2 linked regions of the Homo sapiens genome follow. The protein of the gene in region 1 interacts with the protein of each later gene in a pairwise test. Each region holds a gene or a part of one and is shown on either strand. Other genes may lie near its edges.

Evidence for each region.
Region 2: the proteins of STRN (region 1) and TRAF3IP3 interact in binary tests that used the Homo sapiens proteins (3 or more experiments, as listed by UniProt).

What each region holds. Positions count from the first base shown.
Region 1 is NC_000002.12:36,847,970-36,851,793, reverse strand, and holds part of STRN (striatin), read left to right. Parts: intron 1-686; coding exon 687-794; intron 795-1,993; coding exon 1,994-2,080; intron 2,081-2,168; coding exon 2,169-2,338; 3' UTR 2,339-3,824. UniProt on the Homo sapiens protein: Calmodulin-binding scaffolding protein which is the center of the striatin-interacting phosphatase and kinase (STRIPAK) complexes.
Region 2 is NC_000001.11:209,762,230-209,766,053, forward strand, and holds part of TRAF3IP3 (TRAF3-interacting JNK-activating modulator), read left to right. Parts: intron 1-285; coding exon 286-433; intron 434-583; coding exon 584-641; intron 642-838; coding exon 839-863; intron 864-1,133; coding exon 1,134-1,163; intron 1,164-1,262; coding exon 1,263-1,358; intron 1,359-3,824. UniProt on the Homo sapiens protein: Adapter protein that plays essential roles in both innate and adaptive immunity. Plays a crucial role in the regulation of thymocyte development.

The sequences.
Region 1 (3,824 bases):
AACTTTGTATGCAAAAAGAGCTGAGATTTAAATTTGAGAATTATCTCCATGTAAGTGATGATAGAACTTACTTAAAGTAGCAAAATCTCACAGAACATTGTAGAATGAACAGCGTTAGTGGCTCTAGACTAAGCCATAGATGGCACCCACATATAGCAGGAAATTGTAATTTATAAATATTTCCAGATTTATCAGGCAATTCTCTTTCCTAACATTGAAATTTTGAAAACAGTCACAGAATAAATGAACTAAAGACAAATAATGAAAGTCACATTATTACTTTTTCTTTTTCTTTTTTCTTTTCTTTTTTTGAAATGGAGTCTCGCTCTGACACCTAGGCTGGAATGCAGTGGCACGATCTCGGCTCACTGCAACTTCCATCTCCCGGGTTCAAGTGATTTTCCTGCCTCAGCCTCCTGAGTAGCTGGAACTACAGGCACGCACCACCACACTCGGCTAATTTTTGTATTTTTAATAGAGACAGGGTTTCACCATGTTGGCCAGGATGGTCTCGATCTCCTGACCTCGTGATCCACCCACCTTGGCCTCCCAACGTGCTTGGATTACAGGCGTGAGCCACCGCGGCCGGCCTACTTTTTCAGTCTCTTAGATAGATAATTCAGTTCTCCTTTGTGTGAAAAATATCTTTGACTAAGTTGTGTTGCTTTTTAATTTTTTCTTTTTAGCAGCCAACTCTTCCTGCCAAATAAATAGAGTCATCAGTCATCCTACTCTTCCGATCAGCATCACTGCTCATGAAGACAGGCACATCAAATTCTATGATAACAATACAGGTAAGAATTTATTAAGAATTGATTTTTATTAAAGCAAAAAAAAAAAATCCCTACCACAAGTAGGCTAATTTTGGTGTCTCTTGGTGGTTTCGTAGTCAGGGAATAGGCACTGAACCCCAAATACTCTCCCGTCTCAGTTTCTCTTCACTCTATCCAAATCTGCTAAGACTAGTCTTTATTATACAATACAGAATCATTTTGGTTTATTTAATAGTGAGCAGATGCTATATGTAGGCTTTAGAGCCAAGGTTATCACTAGGGACACCAGGAAAAGTTCACTCAAATACAAATAAAAATGATCTGTTGCTATGATCTATTGTAGTATTATATATTGGGGAAAAGTAGAAACATTGGAAATAGAGGCATATGGTCATTATATTTTGTTTAAAGTTGTTCAGTTATTGAATAGCATTATTCAATATTCAATTATTCCATTACCAAATAGCCTTTTTTAGTGTTGCGGATGGAAAACCTCCAGGTCATTGTATTCGTTTTTCCATAGACTAATCTTTTCTGTATTATAAAACTGACTGGTTGGTCCTCATTGATTTGAATTGTGCATGGAGATTTGCCCAAGTTTTATTTTATTACATTTCACCAGTATAAAGGAAATTTAGGAAGCACTGTGCTGGGAGGAAAGCACCCTATATTAGCTGCCATATTTACCTAAGTATCTGCCTTGTTAATATGTTGACTTCTGCTGACTTTGTTTAGCTGCTGGTGATGAATCATTTAATATTTAAAATTTTTTTCTGTATGTTGTATCCACCAAAATTGTGGCCATGTTTTCTTTCTGTCCCTTTTTCCTTGCCTCATTGTTTTCTCTCTGTGAATTTGAATTCTGTGTTTCCACAACTCATAATTTGCCAGTAGCTAAAGAATGCAAAGTAGGTGATTAATAATGTCTAAGTTCTAATTAACAAACGTGGCTTAAGGGTTGCGTGTAGAAATTACTGACTTCCATATCGTGGCTTAAAAGACAAAAGTGTAATCTAAAATTTGAGCTTTTTTTGGTTTTCCATATCATTGCCATGACTAGAGGCAAGAGGGAGACATGTTGTTTTAGGTGATGGAAAAAGCTATTAATACAGTAAGCACACAGAGAGGGATGACTGGAGAAACCAGCAGGACATGGTAGCTGGCAAATATTGAAGATGAGGAAAGGCATTAATAAGGAGTAACAATCTCTTTTTCCAAAGGCAAACTGATCCACTCGATGGTAGCCCACCTAGAAGCTGTTACAAGTTTAGCAGTTGATCCCAATGGCCTTTACTTGATGTCTGGCAGTAAGTACCTCAACTATGGATTATTTATTTGTCCTTACCATTTTCATGTTAATGTAATTTTTCCTTTTAATTTTTTTTTTGGATATAGGTCATGACTGTTCAATACGTTTATGGAATCTAGAAAGTAAGACGTGTATCCAAGAATTCACAGCTCATCGAAAAAAGTTTGAAGAATCGATTCATGATGTAGCTTTCCACCCATCCAAATGCTATATAGCCAGTGCTGGAGCTGACGCACTGGCTAAAGTCTTTGTATGACGCAATGCATCATCTTCACCTTCTAGCTGTTTATAAGTAATCAACTGCACACAAGAGATACAGAAGACGAGGGCAAGAATCATCTCGTCCTGCCCTTTTGTTCTGCTGAAGGAGCACAGAGAACATTTGTTGAAGTATAGTTTTGCAATTCATATACTGTTTTCTAAAACTAAGGTTTGTTCAGGTTGCTGCAAGCTCAGCTGAATCTGTGAGCCTGAGGTCTGTTTCAAATTTCTCCCCAATAGGCGCCTTTATTTCTGAGGTGGTTCTAATTCGCTAGGCAGGCCTGAGCGAATACAAGTTTAGCTTGTCCCTGTTGAGTAAGTAGGGCATGCTACAATGGATAATTTAAAAGCTTGATAGCTGGGACTGAATAGAAGAAAACGGGAAACTTAGACCAAGTTCTCCCCTGAGAAATCTTGTTAAAACACATTAAGTAGTCAAAATAGTAATCTTTATCATATCTGCCATATTAACCCCTTTGTGTATAATGACCAGGCAGTGTTAAACTGAGTTTTTAATTTGACTCTCCTTTCAGCTGTTCACATAAAGCACCTGGCAAAGCATTTTACCTGTTAGGGGGAGAAAAATGCAATAATATGTTAAATATATTATTATTCAGAAATGCTAGACAAATAGTTTGCAAGCAGATTTCTATATTGTATTACAGTTTTGAAAACAGATTTGGTATCATTCTAAAGTTTAGCTATCAAGCACTCACCATTGTGAAGAATAGTTGATCGACTCTGCTTTTACTAACAGATTTAACTTATTCAGGTTTGAAATTCTGTTTATTTTTAAGGGTAAACAGGGCATATCTCTTTAATAATTTCTATTTTAAAATTCACTTTATTCATGTGACATTTATAGTACCAGAGTGATTATTTCATACCAATGAAATCTTACTTTTCAGTGACTGAAAAGATAGAATTTATTTGCTAATAATCATTTATCAACACCCACCTAATCATGCTTCAGATGATCTGTGCTCTTTCTTCTTTGTCACGTTCAAGTTATCTGACATCTACCAAGAACAGTTCATAATTATTAATAGCCCAAAGAGTATGGTTAACTTCACGCAGCTGCTTTTGCAGAAGCACTAATAAAAACAAATATTTTGTACCCTAGAAGTCCTCTATTAATCCCTGTAAGAATCTCCTGGAAACCTGGATGAAAGAGTTTAATGCCAAATATTGGCTAAAAAGTTCTGTCTTTCTCTCTCCCTATTCCTCCCCCATTGTTTAATTGAGATATACATGTTTTAATGGGCAGTGGATCAGTATTGTTTCTGGGGAAATCCACACCTTAAAAGGCCAGGCTTCCCCAGCCCAACTTACCTGTGACCCACCTACATGTGTTCACCTTTTGGGATTCTGAAGACCCTGCTATCTAGACCTAGTCTCCTGTCATAAAGACATTATTTCTATAGTGGTTTATGTCTCTCTTACTCTTTGTCCCAAATGACAGAGACCAATCTAGAAATTGG
Region 2 (3,824 bases), on another chromosome or scaffold:
GCAGAGAGCAGAGAGAGAAAGCAAGCTCTCTCGTGTCTCTTCTAATAATGGCACTAATCCCATTCATGAGGGCTACCTGCTCTGACCTAATTATTTCTCAAAGTCTCCACCTCCTAATACTATCACATTGGGAGATAGGATTTCAACACACAGATTTGGGCGGGGGGACAATAAACACTCAGTCCATAACAAACATGATGGTTAGTTCTTCCTTCCGAAATCATCAGGAGAGTCTTTCAAGAGGCTCCAGGCAGTGGTTTTCAGCATTCCCCACTTGCCTTCCAGGTGACAGGCACCAGCTCTGAAGTCTTTCCAGCCCAGCATCCTCCTCCCTCAGGCATCTGCAGGGATCTGTCTGACCACCTCTCCTCACAGGCTGGGGGCCTTCCTCCACAGGACACTCCCATCAAGAAGCCACCCAAACACCACCGTGGTAAGAGCAGAGCCTCCCTCACTCCACAGGGCCTGCAGAGAATCCTGAGACAACTGTCCCAGCTCACTGGCAATGGAGAGTCCCTGTCCCTCCCCACTTCCCTCACTTCCTCCCTGTAAGTTCTAAATCAACTTATCCTCCATCTCTCAGGTACTCAGACAAAGGCAGAAGGACCAACAATTAAGAACGATGCCAGTCAGCAAACCAAGTGAGTTCCTGACCCTAACCCTCTCACATCCCATCCATTCCTCTCTAGAGAGAACACAATGAATTTCCATGTCCGCCTTAATTAAGAAAGAGGAAGCCCTTCCCCACCCTACTGGCTCTTCAGAAGGAATCAACCCACTGCCTCCTGACTTGATTCTTTGGTCCATTATCATTATTTTTAATTTCTTCTCTTTCCAGTTACGGAGTTGCAGTTCTGGATAAGGTAAGCACATATTCACTTTGAAGGGGTCAAATCAGAAAGTATTAAGCTCTGACATTCTGGAATTCCATGATAAACTTGGCTGGGATGGAGGGGCATCTTCTTCCTGGATGGCAAGGGGGTACTGAGCATAGACATGGGGACTAAAGGGACCCTGTCAGAGCCAAAGCAGAAGAGGTTTGCTCTACACAAGCCAGCCCAGGCTCTGGTTCTATATCCCAGGGTTTCAGGGGACTTACAGACATTTTGAATACCCTTGTTCTTTCTCTCCAGGAAATCATCCAGCTTTCTGATTACCTCAAAGTAAGTGGCATGTGACCCCTCCCCTCAGTTCCTCCATCCACTTACCCCCGATCCTCCAGGTTAATCTTACCCTCTTGCACTTTGTGCCCGCACCCCCAGGAGGCCCTACAAAGGGAGCTGGTCCTAAAACAGAAAATGGTGATTCTCCAAGACCTACTGTCCACTCTGATTCAGGCCTCTGACAGCTCTTGGAAGGTAAGGGAATGAAATTCTTTTTGAACAAAGCTTGGGCTTCTATGTGTTCCCATCTCATTTTTCTTTCCACATCATCACAGTAAGAGAAGGGGTTTTCTCACTACTGAAAAGTAAGCTGGGAAGAGGCAGGAGATGAGGGGGATGGTGCTCAGACCTAGAAGTCAAACAGGTCACAATAAATATATGGGTCATCACCTGAGGGTCATGGTGCTACATATCCAAGGAAGACCCAGAAACAAAAGTGGCAAGAATTCCCATTTTTTAATTTGTTGGAAGGAATGAAGGAAGATCCCAATATAGTTTACATTACTAAATATGCTAAATGTCAAATATTTTCATATGGGATTCCCACTGATATTTATCGAAACCAGCATGCCATGTACCCACTCAGTCCGAATAAAAATATCAGAGTGGGAAGGGACCTTAGAGACAATCTGGCCTAATACTCTCATTTTGCCCATGAGGAAACTGAGCTTCATAGGGGTCAAGTAACTTGCGAAAAGTCACACAGCTAGGTAGTGGCAGATCTGCAACTAAAATTCAGGCCTTTGATTTTAGTCCATTCAATGTACAATATTCATAGGTTATGTCCTCTATACAGAGCACTGGACTAGCACTAGAAATAATGAGATTATTTAGATAGGGTTCTTGCTTTGAGAAGGCTCACGGTTTTGTAAGAAAGACACATGACTAAACAATACAAAAACATGAAAAATAAAAGAAATGTTTTCAAGATATAGGAAAATACAAGAAGGAATGAGTGACTCCAGAGAAGAAAAGAGCCAGGGGAATACTTATATAAGCATTTGCCAGGAAAATATGGAAGAAGGAATAGTATTTTAGTTGGGGTACAGGCAAAGGTCTAAAGGCAAGGCCGGGGGTGGTGGCTCACACCTGTAATCCCAGCACTTTGGGAGCCCGAGGCGGGTGGATCACCTGAGGTCAGGAGTTCAAGACCAGCCTGGCCAACATGGCGAAACCCCGTCTCTACTAAAAATACAAAAATATTAGCTGGGTGTGGTTGCACATGCCTGTAATCCCAGCTACTCAGGAGGCTGAGGCAGGAGAATCGCTTGAACCAAGAAGGCAGAGGTTGCAGTAAGCTGAGATCACCTCATTGCACTCCAGCCTGGACAAAAGAGCGAGACTCCATCTCAAAAAAAAAAAAAAAAAATCTAAAGGCATGACACAGTCTAGTAAAATGGTTCTCCAATTTTTTTATTTCAGGATTCCTTTATACTTTTTAAATTATTGAAAATATATAAGAAATGTTTATATTTACCATACTAGAAATTAAAACAGTTGGCCAGGTGCCGTGCATCATGTCTGTAAATCCCAGCACTTTGGAAGGCTGATGCAGGAAGATCACCTGAGGTCAGGAATTAGAGACCAGCCCGGCCAACATGGCAAAACCCTGTCTCTACTAAAAATACAAAAATTAGCCAGGCGTGGTGGTGCACACCTGTAATCTCAGCTACTCCGGAGGCTGGGCCACGAGAATCGCTTGAGCCCAGGAAGTGGAGGTTGCAGTGAGCGATGATAGTGCCACTACACTCCAGCCTAGATGACAGAGCAGGACTCTGAGAGACAGGAGAGAGAGAGAGAGAGAGAGAGAGAGAGAGAGAGGGAGAGAGAGAGAGAGGAAGGAAGGAAGGAAGGAAGGAAGGAAGGAAGGAAGGAAGGAAGGAAGGAAGGAAGGAAGAAATTAAGATAGAAATTGAGAAAGAATTATTAATTTTAAAATAATGAGAGTAAAATTTTTCATGCTAACCTGAATTACATGTTTTAAGAAAAACAGTCTGGGTGCGGTGGTTCACACCTGTAATCCCAGACTTTGGGAGGCCAAGGCAGGTGGATCACTTGAGCTCAGGAGTTCAAGACCAGCCTGGGCAACATGGCAAAACCTCGTCTCTACTAAAAATACAAAAAATTAGCCAGGTACATTGGCATGCACCTGTAGTCTTAGGAACTCAGGAGGCTAAGGCAGGAGAATCTCTTACGTCCCAGGGGTGGAGGTTGCAGTGAGCCAAGACTGCACCACTGCATTCCAGCCTGGGCGATGGGAGTGAAACTCTGTCTCAAAAAAGAAAAAGAAAAAGAACCATATTTTCAAAAACAAAATTAGTGACAGGAGTATCATTGCTTTACACTTTTGCAAATATTTTTAATGTCTGGCTGAAAAAAAAGACAGCTAGCTTCTCAATTTGCTTCTGTATTCAATCTATTGGTTTAAACATAAAGAAAAATTCAGTTTCACACAAATATGTCATTAGAAAAAGTAAGACTTTGCTGATCCCTTAAAAGGGTCTTGGGGATTCCCAAGTTTCCTCAGAATCCCCATGTTGAAACCTGTAAATTAGTATGTACTATAAATTCATGTATTAATATGAGCTACAAGCAGCTTGACACCACCAAAGCATACCGCACCGGGTGGAAAGAGATGGAGCACACAACCTCACCGGCCTG